Homo sapiens: one gene and its partners. The protein of the gene in region 1 purifies or fractionates together with the protein of each later gene. This does not show direct contact. Each region holds a gene or a part of one and is shown in the gene's direction. Other genes may lie near its edges. The genes, in order: CDH12, ARVCF, CHEK2 and PKP4.

Region 1 (8,743 bases):
GGGCTATGCTGGGGAATGAGCCAAGACTGCCAGCCTGTGAGGCTAGAAGCAAGATGGAGTCCGCCATGCTAGACTTCCCTCACTGTCATAATCTTTGCAAAGGTGTTTTCAGTGTGGGAGATATAGGCTCTTGGGCCACAAAAGGTTTGCTGAAAAATTACTGACATGAGGGAGATTGATTAATAGGAGAAAAGGCAAACAAATTATTTAACGTGTATATACAGGTGCCTTCAGAATGAAGACCCAATTTCCCAATAAGTTACAGAATCTAATCACCATCTCAAGGTTACAGAAAGAATGGTGGCCCAGAGCATGGACAAAACCAGGTTGTCTTGGTAAATCACGTTTAGTGGCAAGAAAGGTTATGAGAGGGAGAAAGGAAGTGGCTTGGCTACCAAAGCCACTTGTTATGTAAATGAAACCTCCCTCAGAGAAAATAGATGATAGTTATTTATTTTCAGACTTTTAAAATTGTCAGGCTCTCATTGGCTCCTAGGTCTGGGAAAGGCATAGAAAAGACCTGCCCACGTTAATGGGAATTCCTTACAGATGCAATTTTTCTCCCACAAAAGATAGCTTTGCAAGGCCACTTATATTTTCTGGCCCTGTGGCAGACATTTCAAAATACATCAGAGAAATATCTTGGGGGGTAAAATATTTTTTATTTCCTTCAGTGGCAAAAAACAAAGAAGCAAAATTCCCCCCTTCCCCAATTCCTCCCTTGAGTCTCTGTAGAACAATTGAGTATATCATATTTCATTTCTCTATAGTTGTGGTTCTTACTGCACAACTCAATTAGATGAATTGTTTCCTGAACATTCTGGTGCCACTAGTCTTCCCTTATAGAAACAACCTAAAGAGAAAGAAGCTGCTCAACTAAATTCTCTTTAGTCAATCATTTCTTCCCCTTTGAGAGGTTCATAACCATTAAATGGGCTCCAAGCCATGCCACAAAGTTCTCTATTTATTGTGCAAGAGATAAATTAGTTCAACCTCACAATAATGTATGTCTATCATAGAATATGATTTATTTTCTAGCACTGAAACTAATCCTATTTATTCTATATTTATTTCAAATGCTGGGATTTTTATTGATTGTGAAACTAAAGTTCATTCCCCCCAAAAATGGAGGGTAGTCAGTCAGATGTGTAGGTAAATTCAATTAAAGACAGATCACTGCTGGTTCTCTTTGCCCTTTCTGAGCTATATACCATTTTGTCAAGTGGGATTGCCTAAAAGTCAGGGTCACGAAGAAGTAAGTCCACCTAGGAGACTATGGTGGCATTTCTCTTACAATTTTCTTTAGTTCTTTGATCACTACAGGCTATAAGTTTTCAGTTGCAAAAAATCTGTATGTACAGGATTCTTTTATCTTACTCTGTCTCCCTAACAACCAGATATTTGCCTGCTGTTATAGGTCAGGGGTCCTTAAAAGGCATGGAATACATCTCATCTCTTTTAAAGGTTTCAAAATTCTCCTTTCATGTCTGGCTTGAAAAGGAGTTACCTGTAGAGAGTCAAGATTATCTAGATAACAGTAGTGTGTAATCAAGTAGGGAAAAAAAATTAAGATCTTATCTAGAAAGAATTTGCCAAATCATATAGATAATTAGAAGTACTTCAACATATGAGAAAGTAGAGAGGGAAATGGGGAATGATTGGTACAAACGTTTACATTCTAAGATAGAAGTTAATTTTTGCCTAAGAAAGGGAGTAAGTATGAGCCAGGTCAGCTCAATTTGCTTTCTAGGCAAAAGGAACCCTAAGGTGATAAAAATCAAAGTAGTCTTATACTACAAGTTAAGGATACCTAACATAGACCACTTATATTGTTTAACATTTATAGAGCATTTAGAGTTTGGAAAAACAGAAAACATATTTTTATATGTTCCTTAATTTGAATTAGCTAGTGCACGCTTCTATCTTACACATCATTCTCTCTCCGATATCTTCTAACATATTGAATATCTCTTAAACACATGTAATTATAGAGAACTTGGTACTTCTTCAAACTCACTCATTAAGCAAGATGGCAATATTCTGTAATTTGTTGAATGAATTGAGAGGCAAGTCTTGTCTTTTCATCTTTCCATCCTTACAGGATGCATGTCAAGCCTTGCCACCACGTAAAACATCTATGTGTGTGTGTGTGTGTGTGTGTGTGTGTGTGTGTGTGTGTGTGTGTGTGTTTTAATTCACTATAGAATGATTTTATTTATTAGAGGTTTTCTCTTTTTTCTAATCTAAATTTACTCTCGTTAATAACTCAAATTACTATTAATTCACCACTCAGAGGCATAAAGAATAATCCTAAGTAATGTCAACATAATGGCCCTTCAAGTATTTGAAAATGTGTGTCTTTCCTTGCCTTGGCAGTAATTGTAGTGGTTTCTCATTTTTGGCTTTGGTAATATTTTATCATTCTAGTCTTGCAATAAGTTGTCTTTTCTTGAGTCTGATTTCTTCAACAAAACACAGTATTCAAGCTTTAGGCTGATCAAAGGAACATCACTGGGTGATCCTCTCTCTTTTTTTCAGATACTACACTTCTATTCATGTCATCAAAGGCCACATTATCAACCATCGCATATTATGCATACTATTCTTTGCTTATATAGGTATTAAGAGAAATCAAAATTTCTAACAGGAGAAATATGAAAATGAAAGGAAATCAATATTATAAGTTAACAGGTATGAGGTTAGCAAATTAAAATATAGAAAAGTAAAAAGAAAACATTGATTACAAAGCAGATAAACACATAAATAAAAATATGATAAAAGGAATACCTATAGGGAATTAATAAATATAGTTCCTGCTGCATAAAAAAGTATGGTGAAAGAGACTGATGTCATATTCAAGTGAAATTGCTGTTTTGTTATAATAAATTCCATGAAATTGTGAGTTTTCGAAGATTTAAAAGTGTTTTTTTGTTTTTGTTTTTGTTCCTCAGAGGAAATGCATAAAATGGCAATCATATCTTAGAAGGAGAAAAATATCCATCCTTCCTTTATTTTCCCCAGGTGTACTACAGTAAAGGAACAGGTACTGACACAGCAATTAGCAACTTACTGGGGTCAGACTTGAAGGAATTCCTTTAGAAAACATAAATTTTTAAAGGTCCCAGAAAATCACCATGTTAATGTTAAATTCGTGTTGTCTCAGATTTTCTTAGATGATCAGAGGCCAGAGCCATTGACCTTAAAATTATCACTTAAACAAAGCACCACAGCAGCACCATATTTCAGGAATAGTGTATTTTCAGTTATTGTGGACATAAAATTAATATTTAGAGTGAGGGTGCAAGTAAGCAGCGATAAGCTAAAACTGAGCATCCGTGACTCCATAGAAAATGACTTTCTATATTATGTTTCACAGCCTTCTCTAATTTAGTCATATATATTAATATATAAAGCCACAATTCTTGGTAATGTGTATTGATGATGTGTTACCGCGCCCATAATTTATATATACAGTTCTGAGAACACACACACACAAAAATTCTTTTTAAATTAGTACTATGTATGCTTTTAAATACTGATACAGACATTTACTAGTAAAAAAAATAAAAAAAGATCTAGACATCCAAAAGTATTTAATATAAGATGCCATAAAATAAGACAACAAAATATGGAGTTTTCATGGGACCACTTTTTCAATACCAAATTTACAGCTAGAATCTAGAGTATCTTCAATGATCCTATTTCATTTTTATTCATTTTTTTGTTTATCATTGCTTTGTTCCACTAGATGTCAGTATTGGATAAGAGCAGAGAAATGCTTCCCTGAACATCTGTTCTGTTGCTGTTTTAACTTTGCTCATATAAAATGATTAAGCCCTACCTAGCATGTATGTCTGCACGTAAATGATGAGTTTTTCAAACATAGGCAACTGATGATCTTTACAAGTTACCCAGAAACTTCTACATGGACGTGATTCTTTTCTTAAAATGTTTACCTTGCTTCTGTAATCCCAGTCCTTTGGGAGGCCGAGGTGGGTGGATCACCTGAGGTCAGGAATCCGAGACCAGCCTGGCCAACATGTTGAAACCCCGTCTCTACTTAAAATACAAAAATTAGCCAGGCATGGTGGCGGGCGCCTGTAGTCCCAGATCCTCCGGAAGCTGAGGCAGGAGAACCGCTTGAACCCCAGAGGTGGAGGTTGCAGTGAGCCGAGATCACACCACTGAGCTCCAGCCTGGGAGAGAGGGAGAGACTCTGTCTCAAAAAAAAAAAAAAAAGAAAAAAAAATGGTTTGCCTTGTGCTGCCCTTACCCACTAGTTATTAAGAAAAATGAAAATTTTAAACCAGTATAATTGATAATAACTTGCAAATTGCTCTGAAGTAATGTTCACCATTTCTGCCACATTCTATATAAATTTACTCCTTATTCTTAATTTGTCCTCACTACAGCCTTTAGATTTTGAAACAAAGAAGGCATACACTTTCAAAGTTGAGGCTTCCAACCTTCACCTTGACCACCGGTTTCACTCGGCGGGCCCTTTCAAAGACACAGCTACGGTGAAGATCAGCGTGCTGGACGTAGATGAGCCACCGGTTTTCAGCAAGCCGCTCTACACCATGGAGGTTTATGAAGACACTCCGGTAGGGACCATCATTGGCGCTGTCACTGCTCAAGACCTGGATGTAGGCAGCAGTGCTGTTAGGTGAGAAAAAGAAACATTTTTTTTCTATGTTTCAGGAAAACAAAACAAAACAAGAACAAAAACCAGAGAACCAATTCTCTGTCCAAAACTGCATGATGATTTAATTATAGAATATGATGCTTGAAAACATAATGACTTTACATAAGAATAGAGGAAATGTTATAGGATTGGGGGGAAAACATATTATCAACTATTGCAGCAGTGTTTACTAGTGGTGTTATAACCAATAGAGGTCTGATTCTCATGTCACTCAAGGTAACAAATCTCAACTCTTCATGTATAAACGGGATTTAATAACATAACCTTTTAGAGAATGATTCTCATAATTAGTAATATTAAGATACTTTGAAAGTGCCTAGAGTATAATAGACATTAATACATTTTATAATTACTCTAAAATTTCTGACCCCTTACCCAAAGTTAGTGTTTGAAAAAGTTATTGCAATTTGCATGTCATTTTTTCCAGTGTAACAAACTTGTCTACTGTTGTTGAGGTGAAATGAGTAGAGACACAGTTAGAGTCAGTCCTAGAGTAAAATGAATTTATGGAATTGCTCAAAGCAAATGCTTTGCAAGAAGCTGCTTCCTGCTCATCTCTCTCCCACTGTCACTCTCTCTCAACACATAAAGTCCACTAGTACTATCAAGACATAATACAATTTCCCTTTTCCTCATTTATGCATTGACCCAGCAGTATGTTTTGAGACTTTATTTCCCATTCGTTCTATTGTATGCTTGAATTTTCTGCCGCGTGCCTACAGCTGTTGAGAAACCAATTAAAAGACAAGTATGAGATTTGTTCCTGAATCTTCTGTCCCGAAAGAAGCTTACTATGCAAGAACCAAAATAAGAAAATATTAAGTAGGTTTTTAAAGCAAAAACACTTTATTCTATTGACATACAACAGACAGATATCTTGTAAGATTTTACACTATGTGACAAGTAAAGATTAAAACAATGGATCAAGTGTTCAGTAGTATCCTTAACACAGTAATTGCATATAGTGACATCTCAGGAAATGGCTTGACAGCATACGTAACTTGCTCTTTGGATTTATCTGAATCCATCACCTATAATTACATGAATACTACCTCAGTCAGTTCTAGCTGCTACCATCCATTAACACATACTGGATGTATTAGTTCGTTTTCACACTACTATAAAGAACCACCCTGAGACTGGGTAATCTATAAAGTAAAGAGGTTTAATCGATTCACAGTTCCACATGCCTGGGGAGGCCTCAGGAAACTTACAATCATGGCGGAAGGAGAAGCAGGCGCATCTTACATGGCAGCAGGCAAGACACAACGTGTGAAGGAGGAACAGTCAAACAACTTATGAAACAATCAGATTTTGTAAGAACTCACTCACTATCATGAGCAAAGCATGGGGGAACCACCCCCACTCCCATGAGCCAATCACCTCCCACAAGGACCCTCCTTCAACATGTAGGGATTACAATTCTAAATGAGATTTTGATTGGAACCCAGAGCCAAACCATATCACTGGATGACTTAAGTAACAAACACAGTTCTGGAGGCTAGACAGTCCAAGATCAAGCGACCAGCAGATCCAGCGTCTGGTGAAGACCGGCTTTCTTTTCAGCAGGTGGTCATCTTCTCCTTGTTTCCAGACACTGGAGAAAGAGAAAGAGAGCTCTCTCTAGAGTCCCTTTTGTAATGGTAAAAATAACTTCATGAGGGCTCCATCCGGATCAACTAATTACCTCCCAAATGCCCCATCTTTTAATACTATCACATTGAGGTTTAGGATTGCAAGATGTGAATTTTGGGGGGATACATATCATCTCATAAGATTCCAATTCTGCCCACCCCAAATTTATGTCTTTCTTACATGCAAAATGCAGACATCCTAAGGGCCCCCAAAGTCTCAACTTCTTCTAATATTAATTAAAATCCAAAGTGTCATCTAAATATCATCTAAGCCAAACAAATGTGAGACAAAAGGTACAATTCATCCCGAGGCCAAATTCCTCTCCAGCTGTGAATCTCCAGCTGTGAAACCAAATAAATTATGTGTTTCCAAAATACAATGGTGAAGATATTCCTATTCCAAGATGTAGAAAGAGGAAAGAAGAGAGGGGTGAGAGGTCCAATGTAAGTCCAAAACCTAACAGGGGAAACTCCATTAAACCTTAGTCTCAAACATAATCCTTCTCTAGCTCTATTCTTCACCTCTCAGGCCCACTAGAATGGATGTCCCACTTTTGGACTCACTAGGGTGGCAATATAACCTCCACCACTCGGAGGGACACCACCCATGCTGTGGTTCTCTGCAGTGTCCTCACTCATGTGCAGTGGTCACACTCTCAGGGCTCCACTGAGCGACCCTACCCCAGTGTGTCTTCTAGGCATTGATCCCAATGTTTAAAATCATTATGGAAGCAGCCATTCCACAAGCCTGGTGACATCAAATCACTGTTGGGGTGATTTGGAATTCTTCCCTCGATTTGGAGAATTATGAATGCTCATAGCTGAAGAGCTATGTGATGCTATTTAACAGAGCTGAAGAAGTTTGATGATCTTCTTTCATTTTACCACATTTCTGTTTTCTTTAGTACCAGCTGGCAGTGTTTCTGCTATTATAATCTCATCTGTTTTCCTGGCTTTTTTTGAAATAGCAGATGAAGTTCTGGTTCACACCTATACAAATCTTCTTATTAAGTAATCAATCTATCAACCCTTAATGTTCTCTTCTAAACACACTTTCTCATTATTTTGGAACACGGACGGGGCTGAGATATTTCCAAGTCCTTAAGCTTTGGTTTCTTTTTACTTAAAAAATTCATCTTTATTTCATTTCTTTTATTTCACATTTTACTGCAAGCAGTTGTGAGGAACCAAGCTACTCCTTTAACACTTTGCTTAAAAATCTCCTCAGCTAAATATCTAATAATTTCATCACTCAAAAGTCCTTCTTTCCACAAAATACTAGACCATGAACACCATCCACCTAACTTCTTTGCCACTTACTGACCTTTCCTCTAGTTTCTAATAACATGTCTTTATTTCTCTCTGTTAACATATCAGAATGGCTTTTACTGTCCATATATCTACCAACATTCTGTTTATGACTGTTGAGTTGTTATTTGGGAGGACAGAATCTTTCTCTACAGTTCTCTTTTCTTTCTGAACCTTTAACAGAATATCCTTGAACATTCATAATTTTAGCACTTCAAAACTCTTCCAGCCTGTACCCCTTACTCAGTTTCAGAGCCACTTCTACATTTTTAGGTATTTTTTATAGCTGCACCCCCACCGTTTGGTACCAATGTCTGTCTTAGTCACTTAAGGCTGCTATAACAAATTACCGTTGATGGAGTGGCTTCAGCAAAAAACATATATGTCTCTTGTTTCTGAAAGCTGGAAAGGTTATGTTCAATGTGCCAAGAGATCCATTGTCTAATAAAGGCCTGGTTTCTATTCAGCAGAAAGTCATGTCTTTGTATCCACACAGCAGAAAGAGAAAGAGAGCTGTCTGGGTCTTGGTTAGAAGGGCACTAATCCTATTTATGAGGACTCCACCCTCATGACCTCCTTACCCCCACAAAGCCTATCCATATATCATACATTGGACATTAGGATTTCAACATATGAATTTTGGGGAAACATAAACATCCAGTCCATAACAAATGCTTTTATTCTTGAAGAGAATCAGTAATCAGGAGAGAACTCTAAAAAAGCTCATCTGTCTTTTAAAAAGAAATAAGTATAACAATTACTGAGCACCCGTACATTTCAGGCTGAATGCTAACCAATTTACTCACTGAATTCAAACTATTATTTTACATTTCCATATTACAACATGATTCACTTCCAGTTAAGTTCCAGAAAACCATATATGGTTTATAGGGCTATATGCAGACACACACACACACACACACACACACACACACATCCACATATACATTCAAATATTTGTTAGGTATTCTCCAAAATCTGCTGCCTTGGTAATTATTATGTATTAACCTAACATTATTTATCAGTCTTTTATTTCTGAAGCCCTAGGATGTTCTGTTGATAATTAGAAAAGTAGAAGATGCCTGGTGAATAGATT
Region 2 (8,743 bases), on another chromosome or scaffold:
TCTCCACTCTGAGGGAGACTGCTCGGTTTGCTGGGGAGTCGCCCTGGGCAGGTGGCCTGAGAGCTCCAGCCTATTTTAATTTTTAAATAATTAAATATTGGCTGCTTACAATATTTCACCGTTTCTTAGCTATGTGTAATGTAACATACTTAAAATGGAACTAAAGGACTTCAGCTCCCTTTCCCTACATCCAGGCATATTTAGAAATAAGGAAAAGAAAGGTGCCCCGTGGGTATTTTTTAGAGTAGGCTCTTAATGCTGCTGTCTAATAACCTCAGGTGAGTACCCAGGCTGCTGTGGGGGAAACCTCCCCTATGGTATGGGCCAGGGGGGTGCAGTGGGAGCCTCCACCTCTCCCGACCTTAGCTTCTCTGGGGTAGCTGCCTTTACTTCTTCCTACTTCTTAACTACTGCCTTATCTGCCTTTACTCTGGGATCTGGGCGGTGTTTAGAGGTCTGGTCCAAACAAGGCAGGTGTTACCTATCTTGTACTCACTCTATTGGAGCTGGGATGGTGCTGAATGCAGGGGGGCAGTCAGCGCTCTCTTGCCCGGTGTGCCATGCCAGTGGCCGGTCAGCTCCTAAGCAGGTGATCCAGGCCTTAGATCAGGCGACAGTGTGAGCCGCAGCGTGTCTGGGAAGGCATTTCCCCCAGTCTTGCCCCATCCTATCCGCAATGTCTGCTCCCAGCTGTCCCCTGTCCCCACCCTACCCCCATTCTGGGGTCCACCAGCGCCCAGCAGAGGACTGGGCACAGAACATTCGCTAAGGGACTCAAGTCCCAGCTGAGAGGGTAGTTGAGCACAGCCAAGCCAGCCCCTGCCCAGCTCTTGGCTGAGCTGCCCTGTCAGGCTTTTCAGCATAAACACAAGGACCTTCTGACCAAGGTTCCTCCTGGGAGAACAAGTTCTGACCCTCAATCCTGCTAAATTTGAGTCTCCCCACCCACCACATCTGGGCTGCTTGGCTCCCATGTTTGCTCTGGCACTCCCTCCAGAGGTGGCCCTGTAGTCTCCCCCCAGTCCCGGGGCCCTCTGCATCTCTGTGGCTCTGTGAGGGTAGGGTAGCACCCCTCCTTCTGTTTGTGCTACACAGGGATTCAGGGTGAGTTCCCTGTGCTCCTTCACCCCAGGAGTCTGGCCTGGGGGAGCATGAGGCTGTCCTGAGTAAGGACAGAAGGTGCAGGAGCAGCAGGATCCCCGGTCTCTGGGTGGAGCAGGGAGCTCTGCACACGGATGCCAGGCACCACCCTCTGTCCAGCCCATCTGTCGTGCTCCCCGCCTGGCCCTGGCAGAGGGAGTGACAGGGTAGAGCTGGGATAGGGAGTCAGGGCCCATTCTGTAGACAGGGCCAGGAATGGAGGGTGGGGGTCCAGGGACAGCACTGCAGAGCACCAGCTGGGCCTTGGGGGTCCTGGGGACTTCCCTGATGGTGGCTTAGTCATGGGGAGGTGTCTGTTCTTTTGTCAGCAGCTTCAATTAAGACCAGAATGAGGCCGGGCGCAGTGGCTCATGCCTGTAATCCCAACACTTTGGGAGGCCAAGGCAGGTGGATCACCTGAGGTCAGGAGTTTGACACTAGCCTGGCCAACATGGTGAAACCCTGTCTCTACTAAAAATACAAAAATTAGTCGGGCATGGTGGCATGCGCCTGTAGTCCCAGCTACTCAAGAGGCTGAGGCAGGAGAATCGCTTGAACCGGGGAGGTGAGGGTTGCAGTGAGCCAAGATCACACCACTGCACTCCAGCCTGGGTGATAGAGCGAGACTCTATCTCCAAAAAACAAAAACAAACAAAACAACCAGGATGGGCTGGTCACGGTGGCTCGTACCTGTAATCCCAGCACTTTGGGAGGCCGAGGCAGGCAGACAGATCACCTGAGGTCAGGAGTTTGAGACCAGCCTGGCCAACATGGTGAAACCCTGTTTCTACTAAAAATACAAAACAAATTAGCTGGACCTGGTGGCATATGCCTGTAATCCCAGCTGCTGGGGAGACTGAGGCAGGAGGGTTGCCTGAACCTGGGAGGCAGAGGTTGCAGTGAGCCAAGATTGTGCCATCGCACTCCAGCCTGGGTGACAGGGTGAGACTCCGTCTCAAAAAAAGAAAAAAAAATACCCACAAAAAAACAAACAGAAAAACCCAAGATGAAGTCTTGGGTCACTCTGAGGGGACTTGGGATCAGGGATCCCTTAGTAGGTTTTCCTGGCTCAGGGCCTTCATATCTTGGCCTGTTTCAGGTCGGGAAGATGACCCAGAGCTGGTGGGTGCCTGGGGCCACAGAGTTCCCCCCACTCCATAACCAGTTATGCACAGGCCCTTCCCACTGCCCCTGCTGATTGAGGGGCTGCCGCCTCTGGCAGAGCAACGGGGAGCTGAGCATGGCCACCAGAGGGCAGCTGGGACCGCCACAGCAGGCAAGACCGGCTCCACCCAGCTTCCTGCGGCAGACCAGGACCCTTCCCCAGACACCTGGCTTGGATGACCGGAGCTCGGCCTCCAAGCCGCCTATTGAGGGCGTGGAGTTGGAAAGGAGCCAAGCAAGGCCCCTCGGTACCCCCAACATGCTTGGTGCAGGCAGAAGGAAGCCTGAAGGCCAGCTGGTGGGTGACCACACACAGGCTCAGCAGGGACAGTGAAGGACTAGCCCTGTGCCTGCGTAGCCCCAAAAGTGCAGTGTCCTTCAAGTGTGTGCCCAGGGGCCTCCCAAGCCTTCCCAGGTGTGGTCTGTGCCTCAATGTCCACAGCAGAAGTGGGCGTGTTCTCACTATGTGCCCAGGGTGGCAGCAGGCCTAGGAGAACACTCGGTTTTGCTGTAGTGGACAGCATTGTCATTGAGCAGCATGGACCTTCCCTGTCCACTGGCCACGGGGCACTCCATTCACCTGCCTGCATTGGCTGTTGCCAGGGCATGTTCTCAGCTACCTACAGTCAGTGTCACCTCGCGCTCATAGAGCAGGAAGCGAGGAGACTTGGGGAGGGGGTGGCCTGCTGAGGCCACACTGCAGGGAGTGCAGAGCGAGCTCACCTGGGCCCCTCATTGCCTACCCAGCCCAGGCTGCATCCTCCATCCCAGTTCTGGGCCCAGTGTGTACCCATGGGAGCTGCCCTGTGCCGTCAGCTATCCAAAGGACTGTAGCTTGCCAATCTGGCTGTGTGGCCTGGGCCAGGCTTATGCCCCAGTGTGAGACCTCTCAGCCCTCTGGTTGGACCATGGATACCGTGCCAGAACCACAGGGCTTACTAGGGCATCAGTGGGGTGTAGCCAGGGGCTGACAGAGCCCCATGGCCAGCCATCGGGTCTGGACAGTTTGGTGGGGAGACCCAGTGTGGGGGTCCCATGGCATGGGTAGGCCCAGGCCATCCTCACTGGGAAAAGGGCCCAATAAAGGGCGTGGTCATTCCCCCGCTTTGAGGCGGCTGGTACTGGGTCCTTGGCCAGGCAGGTGACCCCAGAGCTTGCAGAGCACTCAGGGGGGCTCCCCAAGGTGAGCACCTCCCCACCTTCCCATATGATCCTATCACTAGTTCTGCCTTCACATCACTGTCCTGTCTGTCGTCCCTCTGTCCGTCCACTGCCCAGAGCTCCCTTAGGTTGTCCACAGATGCTCTGCTCTGCCCCTGCCTGTACGATGCTGATGTGCCTAGTGCACCCTTAGGAAGGATACCCACAGCTCTGGCTGCTCCTACCACTCAGCCTCCTGTGGTGCTGCTATCCTCTGCTCCCACCCATCTCCTGGGGGAAGCCCTCTCCAATGCCTCACTTGGACCCCTTCCCAGGGTCTGCTATTGGCTCTACCATATGGTTGCAGGTTCTTGGCCTGGCTGGACCCCATGAGGTAGGAGGCCCATGAGGAAGGACCCATGTTCTCCTTTGGTCACACTTCCCCAACTGGGTGGGGGGGGGGGACTTTGGGAGGCCTGGAGGCAGGAAGACCTGAGTTAAATCCTGGCCCAGCCCTTGTCTGGCTGGGACCCAGTTTCTCCATGTGTAAAATGGGGTATATAGCCAACCTGAGACACCTGGTAGAGTCAGTGAGATGACGGCTCACAGCCAGTGTGTCTCGGTTCTGTGGCACATGGTGACTCCGGGGGAGAGGCTGGTGCTTATCAGGGATAAAAAAAAAAAGTCACATGGTTCTCTGTGGTACAAAACCTATGTGAACACTTAAGCTAAAACCAGAGGTTTCCTAGAAATGTCACACTCAGAGCAAAAGCTGGTTCCTAAGCCTCAGACCTTGGAGTAGGAGCAGCATCTCCTCTTCCTCGGGGCGCAGTGCTGGTGGATGGGCTCCCAACCGGGCCTGCCCATCTCAGGTGCACACACACACTCATATTCACATGCACGCACATGCATATGCACATGTGCCTGGCTTGGTCCCCAGTTCTTCCCTGCCTCAGGCCCTGCATCCCACCCCCCATGATCCCACCCTGAGGCGTAGCCAGTCGCCCACCCTCACTTGGACCCCTTCCCATGATGAAGAGGCTGTCGTGAGACGGGGAAACACACCGTTGGGGCACCAGAATGGACCATGACCACAAAGGACTATTGGGCGGGGCCTCAGAACAATCTAGAAAACACCGTAGAGGCGGGGGAGAGAGCTCTCATTACCGATGTCCCCCAGAGACAGCCTCCCATCCGAGGCCCAGCCCTTCCCTGTCTGTCTGCAGTGTCCTGTTTTTCATTTTTATGACATGAACACTCTGGCAATATCCCCGGGCCTAGATATAAGGAGAGGGAATGTGTCCCCGGGGCCATTAGCTGAGACAGGAAGCCGCAGGGTCCTCCCCTGAGGAAGGCTGAAAGCTGTGTGAGTACAGGCACCCCCTTGTCTCCTGCTCCAGCCCATAAGCCTCAGCTCCCCAGGCTTGAGTGCCAGGTCCCCCATCCCAGACAAATGGTTATTCACACCTGGCCACAGCTCCAGGGCCAGGAACCTGCCTGCTTCCCCGCCCTCCCTGTACTGGAGACTGTTGGGGGCAGCTGCCTGCCTGGGAGGGCCCAGGATCTATGTTGGCCTCAGGGAACCTCAGGAGAGGCACGTGGCCTCGCCCACAAGGCGGGAGCGGACTCTAGGGAGGTGGAGCAGATGTCTTATGGGGCTGTGAGCACCTGCGTGGGGCAACAGGACCCTGAGCCTGGCTACCCTGGGGTGGGAATACTGCTGTGCTGTGTGTGATGGGGAAGACGTCATTATCAGTCCACATCTCTGAAGGATCACGTTTCTGAAGGATGGTCAACAGCATTAGACATGCTGACAAGGAACCGTGGCAGCCCAGTGTCACCTACAGTCCTGGACATGTGGGGGCAAGAAGGTACACATGAGTGTGTGGTTATGAGTCAGGAGCACCACGGGATGACCTTCAGATCAGGCATGACAAGGTCCTGCTTAGAGGACGGTCTGGGCTTGTGTACCTTTATCCGGCAGGGACCTACCCAGCTGGATTGACCTCACTCATGCCCTCTGGTTTCCCTGCAGGAGCCAGAGCCTGCAGGGTGGGTGTCGGGACATGCTGATCTTCCCTCAAGACAGGTGAGTGGCCTGGGTTTAGCTTGGGGACATCCTCTCCCACATAGGACAGCAGAGTGTTCTGGTGGGCCTGGCGGGTGGGGGTGACAGGGATGGACTGGCCCTGGACACTGTGTGCTCCTGGTCCTTCTCACCCTGGGTAGGCACAGCCCCTGGGCTGGACAGGGTGGATGTGAGGGCCTCCTGCCACCAGCTTGGGTTTGTTACTGGCCTGAATATGGGCAGCAGCCACTGGTTTGATGTCTGGCTTTAGGGACAAGCCTGTTTGGGGCTGGCTGACGAGGTTGCTGGTCAGTGTTGGTTTGGACATTCACTGGGTCTGCTCTTCACCTGCCTGAGCTAGGATGCCAGCCGCAGTGGCATCCAGTATTGGCACAGCCTGCTGGGCCAGGCCATTCGCTTGCCCCCCAGAGACTGGAGCCACAGGGACAGAGGATAGTCCTGGAGGCCAGGCACACAAAACTTTGTTTGAAAAGGTCTGATAGTAAGTAATTCAATTTTGCAGGCCTTATGGTCTCTGTCACAGCTGCAGTTCTCTGCCATTGTAGGATGAAAATGGCTGCAGACAGCCCATAACTGAATAGTCTGAATGTACTCTGATCACAGCCGTAGGCCATGTGTACTGGCCCGTGGCCTCAGGTGTTATCTGTGTTTGGGGTTCCTCTGCTTATCATGGCTGCTAGCTCCAGTGGGACTGAGGCATAGCGCCTGGGAAGCATGGCAGGGTTGGAGGCTGAGTGGTCCATGTCCCCCAGGACCCTCTGAAGGATGGTAAGGCATACCCTGCTCACATCCACGCTGCCAGAGTTTTGCCACGATGGGTGCTGTTCAGCAGAGTGGGTGATGGCTTAAGAGAATGGCTCCTGGCCATTCTTGTTCCTCCAGTCCCCACCCTGGCCATCTGCCTGTCCCCCCAAAAAGCAGTCTCTGTGGGAGGCATGGCTGACAGCCCTGTGGTTTCTCAGTGACAATTAGTGCCCATTGTGGAGGCATGGCCCAGCCAGTGCTGTGCCTAAGTGGTAGGGAGAAGGCCATGGCCTCCGGATGCCTGAGTGACCTAGGCTGAGGGATCTAGGGCAGATGGGAGGGACAGGATGACTGACTCCTTGCCTGTTCCCAAGTCCTTGGGCATGGAAAGCTGCCGGCCGGGCCAGCCTAGTGGGAGCTGGGTCTGCTGCCGCCTGGCTGTGTGGGAGGACCAGCGTCTGGCCGAGAATGTCACTGCTCAGGCCATTTGGCCATGCAGGGTCTTCTGGGTTGGGACAAAGAAGCTCAGGCAGGGTACTTGGCTTGCTTGTGGCACAGGTGACAGGGCATCTCAGGGTGGCAGGAGGGGCTGTCCCACTGCCCTTAACTCCTCGTAGGTCACCACACTTCAGGGAGGCCAGGTCAGCCAGACACCAAACGACAGCCCTGGTAACAGGGTCCGCAGGAGGGTGGTTGGCTGGGCAGGTCCGAGGCTGCCCAGGCACACTTGCTCACTCTCCCTCCTGTTGCTTGCTCCTTTCTTGTCCCTTCTTTTCCCTCCCCCCTCCAGTTCTTGGTCTTCTCTATGTTTCTCTGTGGCCCTCTCTGTGCCTCTTTCTCTGCCTTTCCCCATCTCCTATCCTGCCCATCTGGAATGTGGTGATTGCTTATTCCTGTCTGCTGTGGTGATTGGTTTTTCATGTCTGCCCTGGGCACTGGTGCGATGGGTGATGGCATTTGTGCCATCTCTGCTCTGGCTTGGGCAACCTGGGCTCTGGCTTGCGGCTGCCTGCTCTGCTGGGCCCTGGGGTGTGGTCCTGTCCACAGCGGGAGGCAGCTGGGGAGGGAGCCTCAGGGCTCAGCTGGGACAGGGGCTGATGTAAACACCCATGTGTCACCACACTCAGCACCCACTCACCCAGCCTCATGCTGGGTCCTGGGCATCACAGGCACATCAGGCCCAGCCCTGCCCCTGAGGAGCTCCCAGCCTGGTTGAGGAGATCCACAACACACAGAGGAACCAGTGGCCAACTGTGGGGTTACAAGATGGTGATGAGTAGCATGGCTCCCTTAGGAGGGGGAGCTGGGAGGGTGTGATGGGGTGGTGCGTGCTGAGACCAGGCCTGAGTGAGAAGGGCTGGCGGGGACACAGATGCCCTGCCGTTTCCCATAGCTGGCCAGCAGTGGTGTCCTCTCAGAGACCAGCACCAGCCTGGCCTCCTCCATCAGCCGCCGTGTGCCTGCAGGGGGTTGCGGCTTCGTCTCCTGCGGCCGCCTGGCCCCTATGACAGGCCTTCTCTTGGGTTTTGATGTGTTTCTCAGCCATTGTATGAGTCTTTGTATATTAAAGATATTAATTCTTCACTCCTCTTTCTGCCTACTGCACATTTTTCTCACCCTTTTAGTTTTTGTTTATGATCATTTTGATGTCAAAAATGTTTCATATTTTGTGGTGAAGTGTGTTGGATTTTTCCCCATTTTTAGATATTCCGTCTCTCTGTGTAGTCAACTCTCCCTAGCATGCAGCCAGATAAAGATGCACCTGTCTTTTCTTCTAGAAGGTATTTTTACTTTAGTTTTGTACACAGCATTTAATCTGTCTGTCTTAGTCCATTTTGGGCTGCTGTATCAGAATACCTGAGACTGGCTAATTCCTGAAAAACAAAGACTTATTTCTAACAATTTTGGAGATGGGGAAGTCCAGGATTGAGGGGCCACATCTGGCGAGGGCCTTCTTTGTCGCTACATCCCCCAGGAGGTGGCAGAAGGGCAGGAGCACACGTGAGAGAGCGCTGAAGGAGGCGGAACCCATCCTTTTATCAGTAACCTGCTCCCGAGATAACAAATCCACTCCCACTGTAACGGAATTAATCCATTCATGTAGCAGAGCCCTTGTGACCTAAACACCTCTTAGAGGTCCTACCTTCAACACTGTTGCGTTGGGAATTAAGTTTCCAACACGTGAACTTTGGGGGACACGTTCAGCCCATAGCACAAACTAGTATTTATTCTGATGTAAATGGACGGCAAGGATTTAACTTTGTTTTTACAGCTGCATCTGAACTGTTTCCTTTTTGTTTGTTTGTTTTGAGACGGAGTCTCGCTCTGTCACCCAGACTGGGGTGCAGTGGCGCATTCTTGGCTCACTGCAACCTTCACCTCCCACGTTCAAGCAATTCTCCTGCCTCAACCTCCCGAGTAGCTGGGATTACAGGTGCCTGCCACCATCACCAGCTAATTTTTAAA
Region 3 (3,500 bases), on another chromosome or scaffold:
GATTCTCCTGCCTCAGCCTCCCGAGTAGCTGAGAATACAGGTGCCCGCCACCACGCCTGGCTAATTTTTTGTATTTTTAGTAGAGACGGAGTTTCACTATGTTGGCCAGGCTGGTCTTGAACTCCTGACCTCATGATCTGCCCGTCTTGTCCTCCCAAAGTGCGGGACTACAGGAGTGAACCCCCGCGCCTGGCCCCCTGTATATATGAAATTTAAATGTAGTGTTGATTGTATCAGTACATTTTTGGTTTCAGTCTTAATTTAAAAGAATTGGACAAATGTAAGCTTTTATGAGCCCCCCAGCTCAATTTTATTGCTTTTTACTTATTTGTAACCTTCAGATAATTTGTTTTTCCCTGTAGTTTATGGCTGTCAGATAAAAAACTGATCTGGTGACAATGATCTGGTGAAAAGCTCAGCCCAGAAGAACTATAGGTCTGGGCTGTTAGGACTTTTAATTTTTGGAGAGCATGTTTGCCCTGTTTTTTTTTTTTTCTTTTCTTTTGCTGTTGTAATAGGCCCATCATTTACTTTTTAATTTTAAGTCTTGTGCCTTGAAACTCACCTTTGTTGTTGGACACTTTCTTTTTGAGGTCGTGATGTCTCGGGAGTCGGATGTTGAGGCTCAGCAGTCTCATGGCAGCAGTGCCTGTTCACAGCCCCATGGCAGCGTTACCCAGTCCCAAGGCTCCTCCTCACAGTCCCAGGGCATATCCAGCTCCTCTACCAGCACGATGCCAAACTCCAGCCAGTCCTCTCACTCCAGCTCTGGGACACTGAGCTCCTTAGAGACAGTGTCCACTCAGGAACTCTATTCTATTCCTGAGGACCAAGAACCTGAGGACCAAGAACCTGAGGAGCCTACCCCTGCCCCCTGGGCTCGATTATGGGCCCTTCAGGATGGATTTGCCAATCTTGGTAAGACCCTTTGTTGTATAGTATCACGTTTTGTTCAGAAAAACACTTACAGAAAGTTGTATTACCAGGTGGAAGGTTCTGATTGGAGTTGTCCAGGTTTTTGGCACGTTGAACAAATAATTGAACATCATGCATGAACAAGCAATGAAAGCATAGATTTATTGAAGTGGAAGGCAATAGAAGCTAAAGTACATGTCACAGGATGGGAGCAGGCCTGAGCAAGTGGCTGCAGAGCCCTTGTAGCAAAGTCTTCTGGGGTTCAAGTACCCTCTAGAGGTCTCCCACTGTTTACATCCTATGTAAATGAAGTGCTGGCTCACAGCCCATTAGAGGCCAAAGTGAATTGGAGCTCGGCCATTCCAAGACTGGTGTGGATTGACGCCTTATGCAAATGAAGGTCCTAGAATGGACGGATCATAGGCCAGAGTGCAAATTCTTCCTTTTTTGTTTAGTTTCAGGAATTTTTTTTTTTTTTTTTTTGGCAACGGAGTCTTGCTCTGTCGCACAGACAAGTGCAGTGACGCCATCTCGGCTCGGCTCACTGCAGCCTCTGACTCCTGGGTTCAAGCGATTCTCCTGTCTCAGATTCCTGAGTAGCTGGGATTACAGACACACACCACCACACCTGGCTAATTTTTGTATTTTTAGTAGAGACGGGGTTTCACCACGTTGGCCAGGCTGGTCTCGAACTCCTGGCCTCAAGTGATCCTCCTGCTTCGGCCTCCCAAAGTGTTGGGATTACAGGCATGAGCAACCGTGCCCATCTATTCCAGGAAGTTTGCGTGAATTGGCCATAGATTCCCTGCCTTCAGACCCTATTTTCCTGCCTTAGTTAGTTGCAGCAGAATGCTTGAGCCACTCTTAGAATAATTCTGGAGTTTGAATGTGATAAAAGGTAAAACCAAAGAGGCAGTATTGGGTGTTGCCCTGGCTGTTACCTGCTGTGGATTCTGTTCATTTACTCTTTCAACAAATAATAATTGGACATTTACAATGTGCTGTCCATCCAAAGATCTGAAGGTAGCTTTGGACCCTCTTCCTAGAAAAATGCAGATTCACTCAAACTTGCAAACATTATCCCCTAATCACAAAAGCTTCACTAGTTAACCTCTGCTGTGGTTTGCCACAGCTTCAGAGAATCAGAGCTGTTCAGAATAGAGATGGCCATTTGTTGACTACTTGTTACTTGTTTTTGTCTCAAAATAGCCAACCTTGTGATTTAAACATGTTGACCCTTTCTGACACCTCCTGGTTCCAATAGTAAGTTTTGCTCTGCATATGTTTAAAATACACATGTGTGTATTTTAACATTGCCAGGCATGGTGGCTCACGCCTGTAATCCCAGCACTTTGGGAGGCCAAAGCGGGAGGATCACTTGAGGCCAGGAGTTCGAAACCAGCTTGGGCAACATGGCAAAACCCTGTCTCTCCTGAAAATACAAAAATTAGCCAGGTGTGGTGGCGCATGTCTGCAATCCCAGCTACTCAGGAGGATGAGACATGAGAATTGCTTGAACCTGGGAGGCAGAGGTTGCAATGAGCCAGGATTGCACCACTGCACTCCGGCCAAAAAAAATAGTGTTTTTTTTCCTTTCGCTTACATTGCAATGACCTCTTTAATAAACAAATTTGAACTTGGCATTAACAGGATAGAATATGTTAATATAAAGAAATGAAGGACTGATGTATCATTTTGTGTTTTGTCACTCACCATCCTTGTTTTATTTCATGTCTAACTTTGATATCTTGAAAAAACTATAAAAAATGGAGGAATATACCTGCATTCCACATATACAACTTTAAATTTATAAGTAGACACTCGAAGCTATTTTTAACTGATTTAAAATATATTTTTCAGACCGGGCATTGTGGCTCATGCCTGTAATCCCAGCACGTTGAGAGACCAAGGCAGGTGGATCACCTGAGGTCAGGAGTTTGAGGCCATCCTGGCCAACATGGGGAAACCCTGTCTCTGTTAAAAATACAAAAATTAGGCCAGGCGTGGTGGCTCATGCCTGTAATCCCAGCACTTTGGGAGGCCGAGATGGGCGGATCACCTGAGATCGGGAGTTCGAGACCAGCCTGACCAACATGGAGAAACCCTGTCTCTACTAAAAATACAAAATTAGCTGGGCATGGTGGCGGGCTCCTGTAATCCCAGCTACTCAGGAGGCTGAGGCAGGAGAATCGGTTGAACCTGGGAGGCAGAGGTTGCAGTGAACCGAGATCTCGCCATTGCACTCCAGCCTGGGCAACAAGAGCGAAACTCCATCTCAAAAAAAAAAGAAAAAAAAATTTGCGGGGCGTTGTGGCAGGCATCTGTAATCCCACCCACACAGGAGGCTGAGACAGGAGAATTGCTGGAACTTGGGAGGTGGAGGTTGCAGTGAGCTGAGATTGCGCTACTGCAGTCCCGCCTGGGTGACAGAGCGAGATTCCGTCTCCAAAAAATAAACAAATAAATAAAATACAATATATTTTTTCAGATAGGCCTATAGGTTTAGATGAGTGAGAAATAGAAATGGTGAGAAAGGGCTAAATGGGATACATCACCTTTAAAAGTAAGAAAACAAAGAGGCTGGG
Region 4 (7,732 bases), on another chromosome or scaffold:
TCTTCTCAACGTGATTATTTTTTAAGAATAACAAAAATAATGTTACATAGTGTTAATATTTTTATATCCTATTCAGAAAGCTGTGCATACAATTTATTTAAAGGATACCAGCCCAAAGGGTTACTAAGATTTCATACTGTTCCCATTCTCAACCGTCTGGCGATTATAACTACTTTAGATGTTCCAAATAAGTCAGTGTGAGCTACCCCACAAAAAGTACTCTTTTCTCAAACCTGTCTATTAAAAATAAATAAAAGCTGGTGGCAGCTTTACTCCTGCTGGGGGGGCAGTCTCCATTGTACTGTTGTCTTTGAAATTGTGATTTCACAGGACTATTTACTAATCGACTGTTGTTACTATGGCAATTAATAGCTCAGAAAATTGCAGATGCTACATTTCAACACCAAGCTCTGGGCAAAAGGAAATGCACATACCAACTGAAGTGCATGGTTGCTTCCGATTTGCAGCAGCCTGCTTTATCTTACAGATCACCTCTTTAGCATGCATGCCCTTCTGTATCTTCTTCGCTTGCTTCAATAAACTAATTTGCCTCAACTACGTTTCATTTTCCTCATTAAAAAAATAAAAATCTTTGCTAGCCTTAATAATAATGGAAGGGTAACATCATCAGGAGTCTACTATGGACTTTTGAAGACAATTATCTCATTATTACCAAGTTCCTTTTGTATTAAAACATACTTAAATATGCCAGGTACAAGACTGTGCCTCCATTGTTGCTCCTTCCTTGACCTGAGATTTTGAATCCCAGTTGTTTGTTTGGAAGGCATGGGGCTTGTTCGAATATTGTGTTTCGCTTCTCCTCTCTGACCCACTGCCGTAGCTCAGAGCCCTGGAAAAGGAGTGTTCCTCAGCTCAGGATCCCGTGCTGCTGTCCAAAGCCAGCTGGAGAAACCCTCCCACATGTGAGCAGAGCTTGAGCAGGAACCTTTGCGCATGGGCTCTGCACTGGCATTGCTTTTTGGGGAAACACACACAGCCTGTTTCTGCCATAGTTTTGCCATTAGCCCCCACCAGCCCTGAGGTAAGCAGCAGCCAGGCCAGATCCAGGGACCCTGAGCTGCTACCTCTCCCAGCCCGCATTGGCACTGGGGAAGACAGGCCCTGTCGGGGACAGTGCTAGCCCTAGTGCAGGGGAGACCACCCAGCCTAATGGACCAGAGTAATAAGCACTAGTTTTAATTTCATAAAATATTTTCTTACAGGCTCCAGCAAACCTTCACCAATTTACATCAGTTCCTATTCCTCACCAGCAAGAGAACAAAATAGACGGCTACAGGTGAATTTGCAATATCATTTTTACAGAAGGCTGATTAGCAGTTAACACAGTAAGGGGTCCACGTCGATTGACTTCCCAGAGCTGGGCCAACATGGCAGGGTCCTAGATGCTTTCCCTGGGGATCTTCACTCCTTGGAAACTCAACGTGTGGTTTAAGCAAAGCATTTCCACGGTAGCCTCACGTTCTTGAGTATCCACATCGGTACTGCTGAGACCACCGTGCCACTGATGGGGACAGCCGAGAAGTCTTTAGTTCATGTCTTTTGCCCAGCAGTGTCCTCTTCCCACTCTTTTTCTGTTAAGCTCTAAAATCTCTTCCAGCCTCTGAGTGAGGGAAGGTTGGTAAGCACACTTCATGCCCTCATCACATTGTTCTCTTTTGTGTATACCTCGTTCTCCATCTCGCCCCTCCCTGTCCAAGCTCCACAATTTAAAAACACTGAGTCCATCACCAGGTCTGTTTGTCTCAGTGGTCAAGGTGGACTCAGCCCCTGCCGGGATGGACCTCACTGTGGGAGAGTGGGACTGGCGGTTATAACACACCCAGGCTTTGCTTTCATGAAGGGCCTGCAGTCAGTCTCAGGTCCTTACCAGTGCCATGGCGAACTTGGACCATCTGGTCTCTCCTCTTCCCTTTCAATGACACAGAGCAGCTGGAGTTTCCTAAAACAAGACTGTATCCTGTCCTTCAGATAAGGATGTGTTCTAAGACCTCTCCTTCTCGTCATCTTTTCTCTGTAGGTGGAAGAAAAAGAACTTTCCAAGTTATTCATAATTTATGCTATGGTTTTTTAGTCAGGAAAAATAGACCAGAATCATAACTCTGGCTTGAAAGGAGAATTTAGCTCTGAAATCCTTATAATGTTAGAATGCATTGAGTTCCAGGACATGACATTGGTTTCTATGTGGTAAATTTGTTACATCTTACTAAGTAGGGGGATTTGGGCATAATCAAGAACATAGACATAATAACCATCACAATTTGAAGAAATTAGTGTGAGGTCAAAGCTAAGACTGAACAAAAGGAAATGGAGAGCAGTGTGCCCTGTGTGGGTGCCCACGTGTGCCTGGTCTTGCCCACTTACAGATGGACTTAGCCCTGGCTTGGGGAAGCCTTTTCCTCTAGAACCATATTTGCTCACGTGTGTCTCCTAATTTTACTATTCTTCTGCCTTGAGATTGCTTATTCCTTTAATATTACAACTTACAGCAGAGTTTCCAAAGTGTGACTGTTGTTCACCTAGCCACATACATCTTTTAAAATGTAGGGGTGGACTCCATCTTCATATCTGAAGTAAATGTTCTAAAAGATGGTTCGGTAATTATACAATTATCCAAGGCCCAGAAACCCAGTCCTTGACTAAATTAGTGATGTGCTAATAATTCCCCTGTGTCAAACCAAATATCAAGACCATCCTCTCATTCGGCATGCCCAGGTAACAGGTGCCTCCACAGCTGAGCACACAGCAGGGCCTCCAGTAAAGAGGGGAGGTTTCTGGGGCCACCTGCCCTGAGATCTCAGGCTTTCTTGAGGCACCTGCTTCTCTAGAGGTCTTAGGACAGGAAACTCAGCAGCCTGCCTGAGAATGCAGCTTAAAATCCTTAGAGTCCAATAGTAAACGCATAGTGTGCACCAGAAACAGCTTTTAACCTTAAACTGCAAATATTGAATATTGCTTTAAAAATATGAAGCAGGAAGCCCACATTAATTTTCCTAACACATGTATTTTTAAAAAATTGCTTTTATTTATTTGCCTTTTCATTTTGTCAACAGCATCAACAGCTGTATTATAGTCAAGATGACTCCAACAGAAAGAACTTTGATGCATACAGATTGTATTTGCAGTCTCCTCATAGCTATGAAGATCCTTATTTTGATGACCGAGTTCACTTTCCAGCTTCTACTGATTACTCAACACAGTATGGACTGAAATCGACCACAAATTATGTAGACTTTTATTCCACTAAACGACCTTCTTATAGAGCAGAACAGTACCCAGGGTCCCCAGACTCATGGGTGTAGCATCAAGATGCCCAACAGAGGAACTCTTTCTTTCTAACCTTGTTCAGATTGAGGTGAAAAGTCCATCTTGCTGATTTGATGATTGAAATGTGAAAGTGAAGTGGAAGGAATGAATGAAGTGTGTTTTTTTTTTCTTTTTTGAGGAATTATCAGGGAAGTGAGGAAATGTTTGGGAGAGGACTTTCTAAGCTCTATTTAGGTGTTAGATCTAATTACTTATAGATTCTGTAGTCTGGTGAAGGTGTGGGTGACGTGATGAGAGGTTTGAGAAATGGGTGAAATGAAATGGGGGATATGTAGGTCAAATCAAATTAAAGATGATTTTTTTAATGTGAATAAAGTTATGTTCTGATAGTTTGTACAGAAAAAATAAAATGGATGCCCATGTTTTATTGCTATTACTAAATGTCAAGATTGTATGCTATTATGTCTTGTAAATTTCTTTTGTTGGTGTAAATATGGAAATGCCACATTGGTTAAGTGCCATCATTTGTAATGCAATGTGTCACTTGAAAAGAGATTTGAAGAAACTGACAACTTCAAAAACAAATGAGAAGCCCAAGGAACTGTGAGCAATTAAAAGCAAACCGCGACACCCTTTGTCTCCACCACACATAGTGTACTTTGGAAGCACAACGTCCAGGCTGGTACCGCAGCGCCATGCCCATTCCTCGCCTCATTCATAGGACACTTCACTGCCATTTTCTATTCACATAAAAGAAAAATAAATGTGGAAATTTCATCCTTGGAAATGTGTTCTCTATTCTTTTTAAATTTTCTGTATGTATATGGAAAAGCAGATTTAATAAACACAAATCTAACTGCATGTTGGAAACAGCTTAAATATATCCAACTATTTTGGACTTTTCCTAGTTTTATATATACTTTGTGAGATGGACCACACCAAAGAATTAAGCTATGAACTTTCCTTCTCTGACAATCTAGGTATTTTTATTTCTTGGAATCTATTTCAAATCTAGTACCCTTCACAGTTTTATCATGTTTTTCTATATGGCAGCCCGGCCATAACTAAATTGATATAACTAAATTGATACCTTTTTTAGGCATCATTTTTAAGAACTCAGTAACTTCATAAGAACAGTGGTTGGGCATTTATTTGGTTGGCACCAATATAATAAAACAAATTCTAAATTATGATCTTGTTGAGTAATTCCTGGATTAGGAATGGGGTAGGGGAAAGAAGCCCCACAGTAGGGTAGGCAGAGGTCCCCATAGCACCACACAGCATTACTTGGGAGCTTTTCTCCATCTGTGGAGGCAATGAGGGACACCAGGCCCAAAGTCTGAGGCCTTCTCAGGTCTTGCAGTTTCCACCCTTCAGTCCTAGCTCCTGGATCTTTGTTGGTGTAAATATGGAAATGCCACATTGGTTAAGTGCCATCATGGAAAACTAGGAACTAGTTTACCTGTAGCTGTACTAGGAAAACTAGGAACTAACGCCCATGGCAAGTCAAACCCAGAAGTGTTGTCTTAGCTCAATATACCCTGCAAGTGTAATACAAATCGCAGATTAAAACATTTGTACTTATATTTGTGAGTATATGGAAAGACACCCAAGAGAAAACTGCGTTTTCTTGCCGAATGGACAGCAGCCCAAGATGAGCATCCAAAGTGAAATGGAAATACCAGTGCGAGCATGAAAGTTCCTAAGATCTGCAAGCCGGGAGCCCTTCTGGGGTGCCTTCTGAAGAACACTCGAGCCAGCTTGCGGAGTCGACTGCCCAGCTACTGAGCCCTGGCTGCCTCATACCTGGCGGAGCTCAGCAGACAGCCCTTGTTAGATGGCAGAGGTCGCCAGATGTTCCTGAGGAACTGGCATCAGGACTTCTGGGACGTAACCACTTCAGTTTCCAATCACTGACTTCCCTGAACCTGGTATCTTCAGATCTGGGTTGAAGCTGAAGGCTCAGTTGGGGAATCAGGAAAACAAGGGAATCGGAGCCAGCCCAAGCCAACTGACAATAACTTTCTTTTAGTGACTGCATTAGTTTGGGGTAATGCTGTAACAGGCAGCATTTCAAAAACGGATCCAAATTTGGGTTGAAAATAACTCACCTGGGTCTCCAATCAGACCTAACAGAGCCAGAAAGAGGCCTGTACACGGGGACTGGGCAGAAGATCTAATGCCGTTTAAGACTCCTCCCTTGAGACCAGAGAAAAGAAACTGCAGACACAGCCTGAATGATACAAAAGTGCATCATTGATGAAAAAACAAAGCCTACTGTTCCTTCAAGGTGTGGGAATAAACAAGCTCTGCTAAAACAAAGTTGACTTTTTATTGCTGTCCTTACGTCACTAAGTAGCATATAGAATTCAGCCCACTTCCACCCTGTTCCAGAGGGTCAGGGCTGAACTGAGCCAATGTCAGTGAGCTAAACAAGGGTTTCCTTACCGTGATTGCACATTAAGAGTCACCTGGACCCCACCCTGACCACTCAAAACCACAGAGGTGGTGTCCAGACATCAGTATTCCTGAAAAGCTCCCTGGGTGATCACAGCATACAGTCCAGTGAGAGCCACTTGGTACTACTCCCCATTCTCCCTCCATCCCTTCATGCCGCACCACCTGAAAATTTAGCAGCTGGGGTTTAGGGTGCGGAGTTTGCCTAGAAGAGAGGGATAGATTTGGAGTGTTATCATTGAGATCTTAAACTTGGAAAGTCAGATGTGAGGTTTTTCTTTTTGCCAGAGTATGTCTTTTTGCCTGCGCACACTTGTTTAAGGTTATGTCCTTTGAAGTCCATGAGTATCAGAAGTGATGACCACACAGTCCCGTAACTGTTCCAATCATTAATCCCTGGCCAGTGTTCTGTTGTCCACCTGATGCTGATTCTTGCACTGAAATACCAACAGGTCACTTTATTGACTGCTGACTATGTGCTCAGAGTACCACATACATTATCATCTAACCCTCACAGCACATGTGTGACATCTGTACTAACAGCCCATTTAACATATCCTGAAGCAAACTTGGAAGACTAACTTGCTGAAGATCATACAGCCAGTAAGGGGCCATTAGCATTACACTCAACTACATTGCCAGTGGTTTTCATATTTAATAATTTGAGTTTCAGCTGAACTTCTACAAAGTGTTTTTCATCATTGCTTCAAATTTGCCAAAGGACTTTCTATTACTACTCTAAAAGGAGAAAACCATCACTTGCCATAAACTTTGGGCAAGTGATGGTTTTCTCATATACTTTTTTAGTAACCATAAAAATGAACAATTAACTATTAAACATAAAAAATATCAAATTGTTTTTAATTAGCTGGGCATGGTGGCATGCACTTGTAATCCCAGCTACTCAGGAGGCTGAGGCAGGAGGATCACTTAAGCACAAGAAGTCAAGGCTGCAGTAAGCTATGATTGCACCACTGCACTTCAGCCTGGGTGACAGAGGGAGACCCCATCTCAAAAAAAAAAAAAAATGCCTACGTACCACCAAAATTTATCTTGTCTACCACCACTGGTGTTACATGAACCTCATTTTGGGAAACTTGAGTTCTGATTATTCTGATGTGTGTGATGATTTAGGTTTGGCTGATAACTCCCCCTAAAAGAATGCTGTGAGCTATGCCTATTAATATAAGCCACTAAAAATCTGTCACTAGGCAACCCTCCCATTTGGGGGCCTCAGCAGTACATTTGATGGAACACTTATCCAAACCTATTGGATGGTGGTTTTATTTCCATGATCAAACTGGCTTACAAGGAAAAGACATTTGAAAACTTGGCCATTGCTATTCACTTATTAGATTTTTAAAATACCATTGTTTTTAACAGCGTTATTCATAATTGCCAAAAACTAGAAACAACCCAAATCTCCAACAGAAGAATGGATAAACAAAAGTTATATCCAAGAATAGATAAAATTATGGTATATTCATGTAATAGAATACTAATCTACAATAAAAAGAATGAGCCACAGTACAGAGACATGGATGAATCTCAAAAATATGCTGCTCAAACGCAGGAGAAAGTTGCAGAAAAGAGAACATAAAGCATGACTGATTCAAGAAGAGGTGGTAGAAGTCAGAATCATGGTTGCCCTAGGTATTGACTAGAGAGCTAAGCGATGGAAATGTTCTGTATCTAGGTTGGGGTGGCAGTTACACAGGGGTATACCTTGATCAAAACTCATCAAAATAGGCTGGGCATGGTGGCTGACACCTGTAATCCCAGCACTTAGGGAGGCCGGATGGGTGGATCACCTGAGGTCCGGAGTTTGAGACCAGCCTGGCCAACATGGCCAAACCCCATCTCTACTAAAAATACAAAAATTAGCTGGGTGTAGTGGCAGATGCCTGTAATCCCAGCTACTCGGGAGGCTGAGGCAGGAGAATTGCTTGAACCTGGGAGGCAGAGGTTGCAGTGAGCCGAGATCACACCA

Evidence for each region.
Region 2: the proteins of CDH12 (region 1) and ARVCF purify together in Homo sapiens (affinity purification with mass spectrometry; one large-scale study listed by BioGRID and IntAct). This does not show direct contact.
Region 3: the proteins of CDH12 (region 1) and CHEK2 purify together in Homo sapiens (affinity purification with mass spectrometry; one large-scale study listed by BioGRID and IntAct). This does not show direct contact.
Region 4: the proteins of CDH12 (region 1) and PKP4 purify together in Homo sapiens (affinity purification with mass spectrometry; one large-scale study listed by BioGRID and IntAct). This does not show direct contact.

Annotation. Positions count from the first base shown.
Region 1 is NC_000005.10:21,798,090-21,806,832, reverse strand, and holds part of CDH12 (cadherin-12 isoform 1 preproprotein), read left to right. Parts: intron 1-4,412; coding exon 4,413-4,666; intron 4,667-8,743. UniProt on the Homo sapiens protein: Cadherins are calcium-dependent cell adhesion proteins. They preferentially interact with themselves in a homophilic manner in connecting cells; cadherins may thus contribute to the sorting of heterogeneous cell types.
Region 2 is NC_000022.11:20,007,245-20,015,987, reverse strand, and holds part of ARVCF (splicing regulator ARVCF), read left to right. Parts: intron 1-5,479; 5' UTR 5,480-5,533; intron 5,534-8,743. UniProt on the Homo sapiens protein: Contributes to the regulation of alternative splicing of pre-mRNAs.
Region 3 is NC_000022.11:28,731,821-28,735,320, reverse strand, and holds part of CHEK2 (serine/threonine-protein kinase Chk2), read left to right. Parts: intron 1-593; coding exon of another isoform or gene 594-599; coding exon 600-918; intron 919-3,500. UniProt on the Homo sapiens protein: Serine/threonine-protein kinase which is required for checkpoint-mediated cell cycle arrest, activation of DNA repair and apoptosis in response to the presence of DNA double-strand breaks.
Region 4 is NC_000002.12:158,677,358-158,685,089, forward strand, and holds the end of PKP4 (plakophilin-4), read left to right. Parts: intron 1-1,223; coding exon 1,224-1,297; intron 1,298-1,888; exon of another isoform or gene 1,889-2,032; intron 2,033-3,071; coding exon 3,072-3,320; 3' UTR 3,321-4,072; downstream 4,073-7,732. UniProt on the Homo sapiens protein: Plays a role as a regulator of Rho activity during cytokinesis. May play a role in junctional plaques.